Homo sapiens: one gene and its partner. The protein of the gene in region 1 interacts with the protein of each later gene in a pairwise test. Each region holds a gene or a part of one and is shown on either strand. Other genes may lie near its edges. The genes, in order: SHISA5 and DESI1.

Evidence for each region.
Region 2: the proteins of SHISA5 (region 1) and DESI1 interact in binary tests that used the Homo sapiens proteins (3 or more experiments, as listed by UniProt).

Annotation. Positions count from the first base shown.
Region 1 is NC_000003.12:48,494,089-48,501,722, reverse strand, and holds part of SHISA5 (protein shisa-5 isoform a precursor), read left to right. Parts: intron 1-429; coding exon 430-586; intron 587-7,634. UniProt on the Homo sapiens protein: Can induce apoptosis in a caspase-dependent manner and plays a role in p53/TP53-dependent apoptosis.
Region 2 is NC_000022.11:41,610,649-41,618,282, reverse strand, and holds part of DESI1 (desumoylating isopeptidase 1), read left to right. Parts: intron 1-7,634. UniProt on the Homo sapiens protein: Protease which deconjugates SUMO1, SUMO2 and SUMO3 from some substrate proteins. Has isopeptidase but not SUMO-processing activity. Desumoylates ZBTB46. Collaborates with UBQLN4 in the export of ubiquitinated proteins from the nucleus to the cytoplasm.

The DNA of each region.
Region 1 (7,634 bases):
CAGGCAAGAATGTGAGCGGAGTGTGGACAGGTTGGAGAGCTGGAGTGATCTTCAGGACTCTGCAGTTTAGACCCTGCTTGGAAACTCGGGCCTTGATCCTGAAGCAGTGGGAATTAGGGGAGGTTTGAGAGCAGGGTGTGGCCCCATCAGACTCACATTGAGAAAGTTCACCCTCCTATCAGGAGGCCAGTGCACTGGTGAGGGAGAGAGGGAGCCCAGTTAGGGCAGCTCTGTTGTGGCCCGTGGGATAGGGCAAGGCTGAGGGGGAGCAGTGGCCAGGGGTCAGAAGGTGGCCTGTGGCTAGGGTGGCTCAGAGACGGTGCAGCATGTGTGTGTGTGTGTGGTCTGGTGGCTGTGCCAGGGAGGGCGCTGTGTCTGCTGGGGCCTGGCCCGTGGGCACAGGTGAACAGATGTGTTTCTCCTCTCCAGCACGTGGTGAGGTGTGTATGGCTTCCCGTGGACTCAGCCTCTTCCCCGAGTCCTGTCCAGATTTCTGCTGTGGTACCTGTGATGACCAATACTGCTGCTCTGACGTGCTGAAGAAATTTGTGTGGAGCGAGGAAAGGTGTGCTGTGCCTGAGGCCAGGTGGGTGCACCAGTGGGTCACAGGGTGGGTGGCTTGAGCCTGTGCCCCACAGGAGAGTATGTGGAAGAGAGATAGCTCTGCCCCTCTGGCCTCTCAGCCCTCTCAAGATGGTGGCCAGAGCATTGGAGCAGAGGGTTTAGGGATCCCCTGTTCTGGGCTGGACCCCCTAGACCTGCTCAGTTAGTCCCCTGTCCATCTCCTCCCTACCCTGAGGGCTCCAGCTTGCTGAGCCTTGGGCTGAGCAGGTTTCTTAGAGGTCCTTGGCCTCAGCTGGTCCTGTGACTCACCCCGGGTGTGTACCTGTGCCAAGATGTCCTCAGGGTGGGTACTTGGGCTTGACTATACCCCACAGTATGCGCATGCCCCTGAGGGGTATCCTTTGTTCAGAACCCGCTTGTGGAGCCTGTAGGGTGCAGTGCGTAAGCATGTGCCCCAGTGTGAGCTCTATCTGTGTCCTCCCAGCGCAGCCTATGAATTTACCTGCATGTTGGGTGTAGACTGTTTCATGGCTGGGACCAAGGTTCCAGGCCCCTGTGTGTGGCTCTTTGCCGTATTCTGTATTTCCTTTGTGTTTGGCCTCGGTGTAGAGGGTTGAGATGGTCATACTCCTCTGCTCATGGCAGGTGATCATCCTGGGTCTGGGCAAGACCAACCCCCGCTATCTTACATATTTATTTTTGTGAGATGGAGTCTCACCATGTTGCCCAGGCTGGTCTCATACTCCTGGGCTCAAGCCATCCTCCTCCCTCAGCCTCCTGAGTAGCTGGAACTATAGGTGTGCACCACCATGCCTGGCCTATATATTTACTTTAATATGTCAGGACCATTTCATTCCTTTCCCACCCCACAGGCAACCGTCTGCTATGGTCTGCTATGTATAAGGTACATCCTTTTCATTATTTGAGTTCTTGCAAAGTCGGTGTAGTGTAAGACCTAGCCACATTGCTGTGGCACATCTGGCCCTTGCCCACTACTGCTGTGTCCCTCTGAATGGTGTGAATCCACAATGGTTGTCATGATAGATAGCTTCAGTGGGCATCTGGTATACCTCCTTTTATGGAGCTGTGTAAGAATTCTCTTGGAAACACATCTGGTTGTGGAGTTGCCATGTCATAGATGCACACAGTTATCCACTAAGGACTTCCAGGTGCTCTTGGGAGTGGTGCACAGGGCTGCACACCTGTCAGTCCTGCCTGAGGGTTCCTGACAGGTCTTCTTCTACCCTTTCACCCTTTCACTTCACCTTTTGGCTTTTTTTTTTTTTTTTTTTTTGAGACGGAGTCTCACTTCTGTTGCCCAGGTTGGAGTGCAATAATGTGATCTCGGCTCACCGCAACCTCCGCCTCCCGGGTTCAAGCAATTCTCCTGCCTCAGCCTCCCGAGTAGCTGGGATTATAGGCGTGCACCACCACACCTGGCTAATTTTTGTATTTTTGTATTTTTTTTTTTTTAGACAGAGTCTCGCTCTGTCACCCAGGCTGCAGGCTGGAATGTGGTGGTGCGATCTTGGCTCACTGCAAGCTCCGCCTCCCAGGTTCACGCCATTCTCCTACCTCAGCCTCCCAAGTAGCTGGAACTACAGGCGCCCGCCACCACGCCCGGCCTAATTTTTGTATTTTTACTAGAGATGGGGTTTCACCATGTTCACCAAGCTGGTCTTGAACTCCTGACCTCAGGTGATCTGCCCATCTTGGCCTGCCAAAGTGCTGGGATAACAGGCATGAGCCACCGCGCCTGATGGTATTTCTTTTTTTAAAAGCAGGAGCATTTATTCCATTTAAATTTAATGTAGAGGGCCGGGGGTTGCTGTGGCTCATGCCTGTAAGCCCAGTACTTTGGGAAGCTGAGGTAGGAGGATCACTTGAACCTAGCAGGTTGAGACTGCAGTAAGTCGTGATTGGTGCCACTGCACTCCAGCCTGGGCAACAGAGTGAGACCTCGACTCAAAAATAAATTAATTAATTAATTTAATGTAGTTATTGATATTCTGGGGTTATATTTGCATCTTTTGTGCTATTTGTCTCTCCTGCATTATCTTTTTTTTTTTTTTTTTTGAGATGGAGTTTCGTTCTTGTTGCCCAGGCTGGAGTGCAATGGTGTGTTCTTGGCTCACCACAACCTCCACCTCCTGAGTTCAAACAATTCTCCTGCCTCAGCCTCCTGAGTAGCTGGGATTACAGGCATGTGCCACCACGCCCGGCTAATTTTGTATTTTTTAGTAGAGACAGGGTTTCACCGTGTTGGCCAGGCTGGTCTTGAACTCCCGACCTCAGGTGATCCTCCTGCCTCGGCCTCCCAAAGTGCTGGGATTACAGGCGTGAGCCACCGCGCCCGTATGCATTATCCTTTTTTTACTTCCTGTATTGTTTCGATTTGTTTTTACGCCATATTTTTCTTCGACTGTTACTTCTTCTTTTCCATTCTGTCTTTTTTTTTTTTTTTTTTTTCTTTCTGGAGACAGTCTGTGTCTCCCAGGCTGGAGTGCAGTGGCGCGTGATCTCATCTCACGGCAACCTCCACCTGCCAGGTTCAAGCAATTATCCTGCCTCAGCTTCCCATGTAGCTGGGACCACAAGTGCATGCTGCCACGCCTGGCTAATTTTTTGTATTTTAGTAGAGACAGGGTTTCACTGTGTTGCCCAGGTTGGTCTCGAACTACTGAGCTCAGGCAATCTGTCTGCCTCGGACTCCCAAAGTGCTAGAATTACAGGCATGAGCCACTGCCCCCAGCCTTCTTTCCTATTCTGAATGTCTTATTTCTTTTTCTTGCCTTATTGTGTTGGCTAGGCCCTCAGTTACAATGTTGAGTAGAAGTGGAGAAAGCAGACATCTGTGTCTTGTTTCCGAGTTTAGGGGGAAGACATTCAGTTTTTCACTAGTAGGAAGGATGTCAGCTGTGGCTTTTTCATAGGTGTCCTTTATCAGGTTGAGGAAGTTCTCTGCATTTCTAGTACACCTAGAGTTTTAATTATGGATGGATGTTGAATTATGTCAAATGCTTTTTGTGCATTTGTAGAGATGACTGTATGATTTTAAAATTTTTATTCTGTTAATATGGTAAATTATATTACTCTCTAAAACACTATTTTATGTGAGTATAGAGCTTAGGTTGATGGTTATTTTTTCTTAGCATATTGAAGCTTCCATTCTACTGTCTCCCGGCTTCCATTGTTTCTGTTGAGACATCAACTCAACAGCCAGTGTCTCTCATTGAAAGAAATCTCTCTCTCTCTCTTCTTTTTTTTTTTTGAGACAGTCTCACTCTGTTGCCCAGGCTGGAGTGCAGTGGTGCAGTCACTGGCTCATGTCACTCTCAGCCTCCTGGGCTGAAGCATATCCTCCTACCTCAGCTTTCCAAGTAGCTGGGATTACAGGTGCCTGCCACCATGCCTGGCTAATTTTGTTTACTTTTTGTAGAGACAGGGTCTCCCTATGTTGCCCAGGCTTGTCTTAAACTCCTGGGCTCAAGTGATCCTCCCACCTCGACCTCCCAAAGTGCTGAGATTACAGGTGCACCTAGCTGAAATCCCTCTTTTTTTTTAACCCTCCGATTGCTTTTTAAGATTGTTTTTTTCTGGCCGGGTGCGGTGGCTCACACCTGTAATCCCAGCACTTTGGGAGGCTGAGGCGGGTGGGTCACGAGGTCAGGAGATCAAGACCTGCCTGGCCAAGATGGGGAAACCCCATCTCTACTAAAAATACAAAAATTAGCTGGGCATGGTGGTGGGTGCCTGTAATCCCAGCTACTCAGGAGCCTGAGGCAGAGAATTGCTTGAACCCAGGAGGCGGAGGTTGCAGTGAGCCAAGATCATGCCACTGCACTCCAGCCTGGGTGACAGAGCGAGACTCCGTCAAAAAAAAAAAAAAAAAAAAACTTGTTCTGGAAGCCTTAAGACCGTTAACCCCACAAGAAGTAGCAAGACAGACAGCAGACTGGAGAACAATGGCATGATCTCGGCTCACTGCAACCTCTGCCTCCTGGGTTCAAGTGATTCCCCTGCCTCAGCCTCCAGAGTAGCTGGAATTACAGGTGCCTGCCACCACACCCAGCTAAGTTTTTTGTATTTTTAATAGAGATGGGGTTTCACCAGATTACCCAGGCTGGTCTCAAACTCTTGGCCTCAGGTGATCCACCCGCCTCAGCCTCCCAAAGTGCTGGGATCACAGGTGTGAGCCACCACACCTGGCCATTTCTGTGGAATTGACATTTTACTATATTGAGTTTTCCAATGCATTAACATGGTATTTCTGCTCTTGTATTTAGTTTTCTTTCCTTCTCTCTCAATTTTCTATTATATAATATTTTTTCTATTTCAAAGTCTTATATATGTTTCATTTTTTCCTTTGTTTTTTTTTATGGTATTATAAATAGTGTAGTTTAAATTTCTTTTCTTTTTTTTTTTGAGACGAAGTCTAGCTCTTGTCCCCAGATTGGAGTGTGATGGCGTGATCACGGCTTACTGCAACCTCTGCCTCCCGGGTTCAAGCGATTCTACTGCCTCAGCCTCCCAAGTAGCTGGGATTACAGGGGCCTGCCACCTCGCCCAGCTAAATTTTTTTGTATTTTTAGTAGAGACGGGGTTTCATCATGTTGGCCAGGCTGGTCTCGAGCTCCCGACCTCAGGTGATCCATCCGCCTCAGCCTCCCATGTAGCCGGGACTACAGGCACCTGCCACCACGCCTGGCTAATTTTTTGTATTATTTTTAGTAGAGACGGGGTTTCACCATGTTAGCCAGGATGGTCTCGATCTCCTGACCTTGTGAACCACCTGCCTCGGCCTCCCAAAGTGCTGGGATTACAGGCATGAGCCACTGCACCCGGCCTAATTTTTGTATTTTTTTTTTTGACGGAGTCGCACTCTGTTGCCCAGGCTGGAGTACAGTGGCACAATCTCGGCTCACTGCAACCTCCGCTTCCCGGGTTCAAGTGATTCTCCTGCCTCAGCCTCTTGAGTAGCTGGGATTACAGGGGAACGCCTCCATGCCCAGCTAATCTTTGCATTTTTTTTTTTTAGCAGAGATGGGGTTTCACCATGTTGGCCAGGCTGGTCTCGAACGCCTGACCTTGTGATCCGCCTGCCTCGGCCTCCCAAAGTGCTGGGATTACAGGCTTGAGCCACTGCGCCCGGCCTAATTTTTGTATTTTTAGTTGAGATGGGGTTTTACCATGTTGGTTAGTCTGCTCTTGAACTCCTGACCTCAAGTGATCTGCCCTCCTTGGCCTCCCAAAGTTCTGGGATTACAGGTGTGAGCCACTGCACCCGGCCACAATTTTTATTTTCTAATTGTTTATTGATACATAAATGTGGAAAACTGTTTGGGTGTGGTGGCTCACGCCTGTAATCCCAACACTTTGGAAGGCTGAGGTGGGCAGATCACGAGGTCTGGAGTTCGAGATCAGGCTGGCCAACACAGTGAAACCCTGTCTCTACTAAAAAATACAAAAATTAGCCAGGCGTGGTGGCATGCACCTGTAGTCTTAGCCACTTGGGAGGGTGAGGCATGAGAATGGCTTGAACCCAGGAGGCGGAGGTTGCAGTGAGCTGATATTGTGTCACTGTACTCTAGCCTGGGCAACAGAGAGAGAGACTCCATCCCTGCCCCCGAAAAAAGTGGAAAAAAAAACTCAGAGTGCTTCTTCTATTCTCTCACACCAGAACAATCAACACAAGATTTCTGTGACCAAATGTATGGGAGTTTCTCCCCACCCACTGAACAAGCAATCAATTTTTTTTTTTTTTTGAGCCACTTCACTCCAGCCTGGGTGACAGAGCGAGACTCCCTCTCTATTAAAAAAAAAAAAAAAGCGTCGTAAAAGGAACATATTTTTTCTGGGTATGTATCTAGGAGTGGAATTACTAAGTTATTATGTGAATGTGTTCAGTTTAGGCAGATAACTTCCAAACAGCTTTCCAACATGTTATAAATGTGCCATTTGTACTCCCACCAGCCATATGTGAGGGTTCCAGTTTGCTCTACATCCTCTTCAAAACTTGGATTATAAATCTTTTTCAAAATATTGAGATATAGGCTAGGTGGAGTGGCTCACACCTGTAATCCCAGCACTTTGGGAGGCTGAGGTAGGAGGATCGCTTGAGCCCAGGAGTTGGAGGCTAGCCTGGGCAACATAGCAAGACTCAGTCTCTAAAAAGAAAAAAAAATAGATATATAATTACATACAGTAAAATGCACAGATCTTTCATGTTTCAGTTTGATGAGTTTTAACAGATGTATACATTTCATGTATACAACATGCTAGACCAGATATAAATCATTGTCATGGAAAAAAGTAGGAGGGTCCCCCAAAAATTAAAAATAGAGCTACCATGTGCATATGATCCAGCCATCCCATCACTGCGTATATATCCAAAGGATATGAAATCCATACCCCAAAGAGATACCTGCTCTCCCTTGTTCATTGCAGCATTATCACAATAGCCAAAGTATGCAATCAATCTACCTGTCCATCAGGATAAATGGATAAAGAAAATGTGGTATATGTACACAGCGAAATACTATTCAGCCTTAAAAAGAAGGAAATTGGCTGGGTGCAGTGGCTCACGCCTGTAATCCCAGCACTTTGGGAGGCCAAGGGGGGGTGGATCACGAGGTCAGGAGATCGAGACCATCCTGGCCAACATGGTGAAACCACGTTTCTACTAAAAATACAAAAATTAGCTGGTGGTGGTGCACGCCTGTAATCCCAGCTACTCTGGAGGCTGAGGCAGGAGAATCCCTTGAACTCGGGAGGCGGAGGTTGCAGTGAGCTGAGATCATGCCACTGCACTCTAGCCTGGCAACAGAGTGAAACTCCATCTCAAAAAAAAAAAAAAAAAGGAAATCCAGAAATCCTGTCATTTATGATGACATGGATGTACCTGGAGAACATTATGTTAAGTGAAATAAGCTAGGCGCAGAAAGACAAATACAGCACCATCTCACTTATATGTGGAGTGTCAAAGTCAAACTCATAGAAACAGAATAAAATGGTGGTAACCGGAGACTAGGAGGTGGCAGGATTAGGGAGATGTTGGTCAAAGGACACAA
Region 2 (7,634 bases), on another chromosome or scaffold:
CAAGTGATTCTCCTGCCTCAGCCTCCAGAGTAGCTGGGATTACAGGCGCATGCCACCACACCTGGCTGATTTTTATATTTTTAGTAGAGACAGGGTTTCACCATGTTTGCCAGGCTGGTCTTGAACTCCTGACCTCAAGTGATCCGCCCGCCTCAGCCTCCCAAAGTGCTAGGATTACAGGCATGAGCCACTGCACCCAGTGAAGAGACCTATTTTAAATAAGGGTATCAAGGGTAGTGACTTTGAAAGTGGGAATTTAGGATGAGGAAGAAGTAGCCACAGGAGGGTAGTAAGGGAGTAACAGTGTTCCAGGTAGGAGAAAGATCAACCTGCCAAAGCCCTGAGACAGGAAAGAGTCTGGCCTGATACTGGAACTGAAAGAAGGCTTTTGTGGAGTGTAGTGGGTGAAGGGGAAAGTGCTGTAACTGAAGATGGAGTAATAGACCTGCCCCCTTCCCACTCCCCGCCCTTTTATATAGATGTAAAGTCCTGGAATGCCTCAGCCAAACATGGGAACATCACCCATTCATTGGGCACATCAGATTCTGATCTGAGGAAATCACCTTGTGTGCTAATCTACTTCTGTCTTCTCTACCTCTTTTTTCCATATTGCTTTTATACCTTTTGCAAAATTAATGAAGAAAGAATTAGCAAAGCTAGTAGTCATTACTTTCTAGAGTTGAACACTTAAGGAAAATAGGCATGGTCTTACTGATTCATCCCATTCAGACAACACAAATCTTGAAGTTGGGTATGTCCCAGTGCTATAAGTAGCCATATATTGATTTCCCATTCCTAAATACATTTGAACCTTTAAAAAATCAATTTGTTTCCTGATTTTTATGATGAATTCTAGAAGTATATTAATAGCCACTATTTATTGAGAGCTTACCATGTGTCAGACCCTTTTTTTCTGAGTACTTTGCGTGCATTATAATCCTCACCACAACTTTGTGAGATAAGTCCTGTTATTGCCTCCATTTTCTTGATTGAAGAACCTGAGAAGTAGAGTGTTAAGGAATTTGCCCCAGGTCCCAGAGCTACTAGGTGGTAGAGCTGGGTTATGAACACAGGCAGTCTGACTTCCAGAGCTCGCGTTCTCTGTCATTTTGAGATACCACCTCTGTGTAATACGTTCCTTTAAAATTGAAGTAAAGTAGATGCCTTCCTGAAGTTTGTAAAGGCATCCTTTGCCAAATGTTTCAAGTTTGGATGAGAAAAAAAGCTGGGTTCAATGTGTATGTGCCACTTACAATCTAGATTTATGATCATGCCTCTTAGTCTCCATTTTCCCAAATTAAATCCATGTGATCTCATCTGCAGTACCCTCTCAGGCTTCAGTTATGTCAGTTCTCCAATGGGAGACCTCATCTAGCTCTGTCGCAGTTCAGGATTAGACTAGATAAAGCCCAAGGTAATTCCCCTTTCCTGAAGCAATGTAAATTCCGTAGTTTTAGCCTGTCCTGTTTTCAGCCTCCTGGAATTGCCTCAAGTGAAGGCATTACTGTTCTATAGCTTTTCATTCACTATGAAAAATGGTCCCAAAATTATCTTCAGCATTCTAATTGAGCAGATAGCCTCATTGCACCTTTTTTCATAGTCACCAATTGCCTAAAATAATTAGCTATTATAAGTGTCCTTCAGTTCCTCCTCTTAATAATTTTGGCTGCTCTTTAAGTTTCTTGACCTCTTTTTGTGCCACAGTACATGCAGAAGTGTGTGTGTGTGTGTGTGTGTGTGTGTGTGTGTGTGTGTGTTTTAATTGTGGTAAGAAGTACTTCATATTTGTTTATTATTTTCTGATCAGAAGTTTCGTGTACATGCATCACGTTTATTTTTCTTTACAAGCCCATTTCAAAACTGTTTTCAGACTTAAAGATTTGGAGACATAGAATATATAAATTGCTTGGCAGAATGAATTCTAATGAATATTAGAGATTTTACACTATACTCAATTCTTTACTTCATTTTGTAGTACAAATAGTAATGAAATAAAAGATATGACGTGAACTCTGTCCTCCAGGAATTTTTCTTTTTTTGAGGCAGAGTTTCACTCTTGTTGCCCAGGCTGGAGTGTAATGACACGATCTCGGCTCACTGCAACCTCCGCCTCCTGGGTTCAGGCAGTTCTCCTGCCTCAGCCTCCCAAGGAGCTGGGATTACAGACATGTGCCACCATGTCCAGCTAATTTTTCTATTTTTAATAGAGACTGGGTTCCACCATGTTGGTCAGGCTGGTCTCAAACTCCTGATCTCAGGCGATCCACCCACCTTAGCTTCCCAAAATGCTGAACAAACCCCCCTCCCAAAGTAAGGCATGAGTCACCATGCCCAGCCCAGGAGTTTTTCTTAAAATATTATTTTCCTTTAAATAATGAATGTACACATATAACATTTGATAACAATATAAAACAGATTATGATTAGGTGCCAAAGTGAGTGAGTGGTGCATGAACTATGTTAGGCTTTGAAATAAGAGAGGCCATGGTGAGCTGAGCATGTCAGAGAGGCTTTGGCAAGAGCCTGGAGCTCCTGGAGGGCAAGGACTCTGTCCCCTTCCTATATGTCCCCAGTGGCCTGTTGGAGCAGGTGTTCAGTAAGTATTGATTATAGAAATGATTGAGACTTGAACTTAAGCTTGAAGATTAAGTAAAATTTATTCAAATCTGAGAGAGGTTTTTTCTGTTTTAATGCCATCTATTGTGCTTTGTTTTTGATTTTTGTTCACTGTGTGAACTGTTTTATACTCATCTAATGAATTAATTTAATAATCATTCAATTTCTTTAAGGCAAAATGGAAAGGAATATGGCTTACAAGGCCCTGCGTGATTCTGCTTTTTTAAATTTTCTTTTTTTTTTTGAGACAGAGTCTTGTTGTGTGCCCAGGCTGGAGTGCAGTGGCGCGTGCCTCCCAGGTTCATGCCATTCTCCTGCCTCAGCCTGCTGAGTAGCTGGGATTACAGGCGCCCGCCACCGTGCCTGGCTAATTTTTTTTTTTTTTTTTTTTTTTTAATTTTTAGTAGAGACGGGGTTTCACCGTGTTAGCCGGGATGGTCTCGATCTCCTGACCTCGTGATCCTCCCGCCTCGGCCTCCCGAAGTGCTGGGATTACAGGCTTGAGCCACCGCGCCCGGCCTGTATTTTTTTTTAGAAGAGACGGGGTTTCACCATGTTAGCCAGGATGGACTTGATCTCCTGACCTCGTGATCCGCCCGCCTCAGCCTCCAAAAGTGCTGGGATTACAGGCGTGAGCCACTGCATGTGGCCTGACCAGTGGTTTTCAAATGCTCTTTAGCTGTGAAACTCTTCCTTGAAATGAAATCTTCTGCAGATATGCATGTGGAAAACAGGTGAAAAGGAACTTTTTTGTTAAAAAAAAAAAAAAGAAGAAGAAAACAAGGTGGGGTGAGGTGGCTTATGCCTGTAATCCCAGCACTCTGGGAGGCCAAGGCGGGTGGATCACCTGAGGTCAGGAGTTTAAGACCAGCCTGGCCAAGATAGTGAAACCCCATCTCTACTAAAAATACAAAAATTAACTGGGCACGGTGGCGCATGCCTGTAATCCCAGCTACTCGGGAAGCTGAGGCAGGAGAATCGCTTGAACTCGGAGGGCAGAGGTTGCAGTGAGCCGAGATCATGCCACTGCACTTCAGCCTGGGTGATAGAGTGAGACTCCATCTCAAAAAAAAAAAAGGATGTAGGCCGGGCACAGTAGCTCACACCTATAATCCCAGCTACTTGGGAGGCTGAGGCAGAAGAATCACTTGAACCCCGGAGACGGAGGTTGCAGTGAGCCGAGATCACGCCACTGCACTCCAGCCTGGGAAACAAAGTGAGACTCTGTCTCAAAAGGAAAAAAGAAAGGATGTAAATTCACTCAATTCATTTTTAATGTTATTGTTGGCTCCAAGTGTTTGGTGGATGAATGAATAAGTGAAAGAATGAACAGGCTGGGTGCAGTGGTTAACCCCTGTAATCCCTGCACTTTGGGAGACCGAGGCGGGTAGATCACAAGGTCAGGAGTTTGAGACCAGCCTGGCCAGCATGGAGAAACCCCGTCTCTACTAAAAATACAAAAAATTAGCCGGGCATGGTGGCGAGCTCCTGTAATCCCAGCTACTCGGGAGGCTGAGGCAGGAGAATTGCTTGAACCCGGGAGGCGGGGGTTGTAGTGAGCCATGATTGCACCGCTGCACCCCAGCCTGGACAACAGAGCGAGACTCCGTCTTAAAAAAAAAAAGAAAGAATGAATAAATAAGGGGATCTTTTTTCTATAGTCCCTATCTCCACTCTATGAATGGATGAGATCCTAAGTGTACCTTGATGCAGTTGAATAGGAAGTGTGGCGTGTAGCTTACAGGCAAATTCAGTGATGATACAAAGGATATAAAGGAGAATAAAGTAGGGTTTGTATCCTGCAACTTTTGAGTTGTTTTTCAGGTGTGAAATAACTGAGGCCCCTCTTCAAAAATCTGTTTAGTAGGAATGGGTTTGAGCTGATGATACATCCATACCTGCCAGCTGTACTCCTGAGTCAGTGAGCATGCGCATCTGAGAAGACAGCAGTAGACTGGGAGTGCAGTATGCCAGGGTGGCAGAGTCATTGCAATAACAAGCCAGGCAGCCCAGATTGGGGTTAGGAACTTTGTCCTCAATAGCACTGTGTGTCAACCAACAAAGCTAACTAAACAGAACAGCTCATCTCAACAGATGTTCATGTCACATCTCAGGACCAGGTCCTTTGCTAGGTGCTGGAGTTATAAAGATACATAAGAAACTGTCCTGGTTACTGAGGCAACTGTAGTCTAACTGGGGAGAAGGACACGTGAATAGTTTCAATACCAGGGTACTATGAGAACAACTATAAAACTTTCAAATTATAAACCCTAGAAGAAATGAGTTAGCCTTTATTGGGCATGTATTATGTCCCAGACCCTGTGCTACGCATGTGTCATGTATCGTCTCTTTTAATCCTGGAAATGTTATGAGGCAGGCAGTGTTATTATGCTTTTTTTTACAGAATAGGAAACTATAGTTTAAACAGTGCGTCCAATAGAACTTTCTGCAGTGATGGAAATGTTCTAGATCTGCACTGTCCAGTAAGTAAACACTAGTCACATGTGGCTATTGAATACCTAAAATGTGGTTAGTGGAACTGAGGGACTGAATTTGTGCATTTATTTAACTTAAATAGCCACATGTGGTCAGTGGTCACCATATTGGACAGCTCAGGCTTAGTGTTCTCAGCCTCTGCAGTGTTCTCTGTGATCTGGTCCTCCATTACCTCTGGTCATCTTCTACTTCCCCTCCTCACCCATTCTAACTTCACTGGCCTCCTTACAGGCCTTCAGATAAACCTGGCATGTCATTGCCCCTGCATCCCTCTTTCCCTTGCCTCCTTTAAATCTTGGCTCAAAGCTGGGCCTGGTGGCTCACGCCTGGAGGTGGGAGGATCACTTGAGCCCAGTAGTTCAAGTCCAGGCTTGACAACATAGGGAGACGCCGTCTCAAAAAAAAAAAAAAAAAAGTAGGCCTGGGTGGTACACATATAGTCTCAGCAACTGGGAAGCTGAAGTGGGAGGATCACTTGAGCCTGGGAGGTCAAGGCTGCAGTGAGCTTTGATCGCGTTACTGCACTCCACCCTGAGTAGCAGAGCAAGACCCTGTCTCAAAAAAAAAAAAAAAATCTTCACTCAAATATCACATTCTCAAAGAGGCCCACCCTGATCATCCCTGAAACTCCCTTAACCTACTCTTTTTTTTTTTTTTCTTTTTTTGAGACAAGAGTTTTGTTCTTGTCGCCCAGGCTGGAGTGCAGTGGTGCAATCGCAGCTCACTGCAACACCTCCCGGGTTCAAGTGATTCTTCTGTCTCAGCCTCCCGAGTAGCTAGAATTACAGGTGTGTGCCACCATGCCTGGCTAATTTTTGTACTTTTAGTAGAGATGGGGTTTCACCATGTTGGCCAGGCTGGTCTCGAACTCCTGACCTCAGGTGATCCGCCCGCCTCTGCCTCCCAAAGCGCTCGGATTACAGGCGTGAGCCACTACGCCCAGACCCCCTTAACCTACTCTTGTTCGTTCTATACCATTCACTATTGCTAACATGTTATGACTTATTATCATCATTATTATTATTGACTGTCCCCTCCCCCCACCTAGTAAGTGTCATGAAGGAGGTTTTTGTTTACTGATGTATCCTTAGTGCCAAGGATAGTGCCTGGAAGGTAGTAGTCACTCAATAAACCATTAGTTCACCGTTTAAGCCAGTAGGATTCACACCCAACCTGTCTACACCAGAACCTGTGTTCTTATTCACTATATTGTACTTCCTCCTTGTAAGCGTAGCATTCCTCACAAAGTAAATGAGAAAAGCTTCATTTGAAAGGAACAGGGGCCAGGCGCGGTAGCTCACGCCTGTAATCCCAGCACTTTGGGAGGCCGAGGCGGGCGGATCACGAGGTCAGGAGTTTAAGACCAGCCTGGCCAACATGGTGAAACCCCATATCTACTAAAAATAGAAAAATTAGCCAGGCGTGGTGGTGAGCGCCTGTAGTCCCAGCTACTTAGGAGGCTGAGGCAGGAGAATCACTTGAACCTGGGAGGCGGAGGTTACAGTCAGCCAAGATCACACCATCGTACTCCAGCCTGGGCAACAGAGTGAGACTGTCTCAAAAAAAAAAAAAAAAAAAAAGAAGGAACAGGTAAGAGAAAGCAGGTATCCTTAATTTCTCCAGTTTCACTGAACTATTAAATGTCTTCACGTAAATAAACAAATTGCAGCCATTTAAACAGCTGATTTATAAATGACAGTTCAGAAGGGCACATCAGCTCTATTTAAAATGCAGTGTTAGGCCACATAGAGTGGCTCACACCTGTAATCCCAGTACTTTGGGAGGCTGAGGAGGGCAGATCTCCTGAGGTCAGGAGTTCGAGACCAGCCTGGGCAACATGGTGAAACCCAATCTCTACTAAAAATACAGAAATTAGCTGGGCATGGTGGCGCACACCTGTAATCCCAGCCTGTACTTGGGAGTCTGAGGCACCAGAATTGCTTGAGCCCAGGAGGCGGAGGTTGCAGTGAGCCAAGATCGTGCCACTGCACTCCAACCTAGGCAATAGAGTGAGACTCTGTCTCAAAAAAAGGAATGTTAGTCTCCCCATTTTACATATAGTAAACAGGAAAGAGGAGATTTAGTATCTTATAGCCCAGTGGAACCCAGGGTTTGAAGATGCTCGTCCTAAATGGATTACCACTCCCCTTTGGCATCCAGTCTGGTTCTCATCAACCACTGTGAAATTTCACCTCAGTTTGGATAAGGTCAGAACCTGCCTCACATTCTTTAGGGTGCTATCCCCAGAAACCCCTGGCTAGGATCCCTCTATCCACTTGTGGTCTTTTTTTTTTTTTTGAGACAGAGTTTCGCTCTTTTCACCCAGGCTGGAGTACAATGGCGCCATCTCAGCTCGTCGCAACCTCCGCCTCCTGGGTTCAAGTGATTCTTCTGCCTCAGCCTCCCAAGTAGCTGGGATTACAGGCGCCTGCCACCACGCCCAGCTAATTTTTGTATTTTTAGTAGAGACGGGGTTTCATCATGTTGGCCAGGCTGATCTCAAACTCCTGACCTCAGGTGATC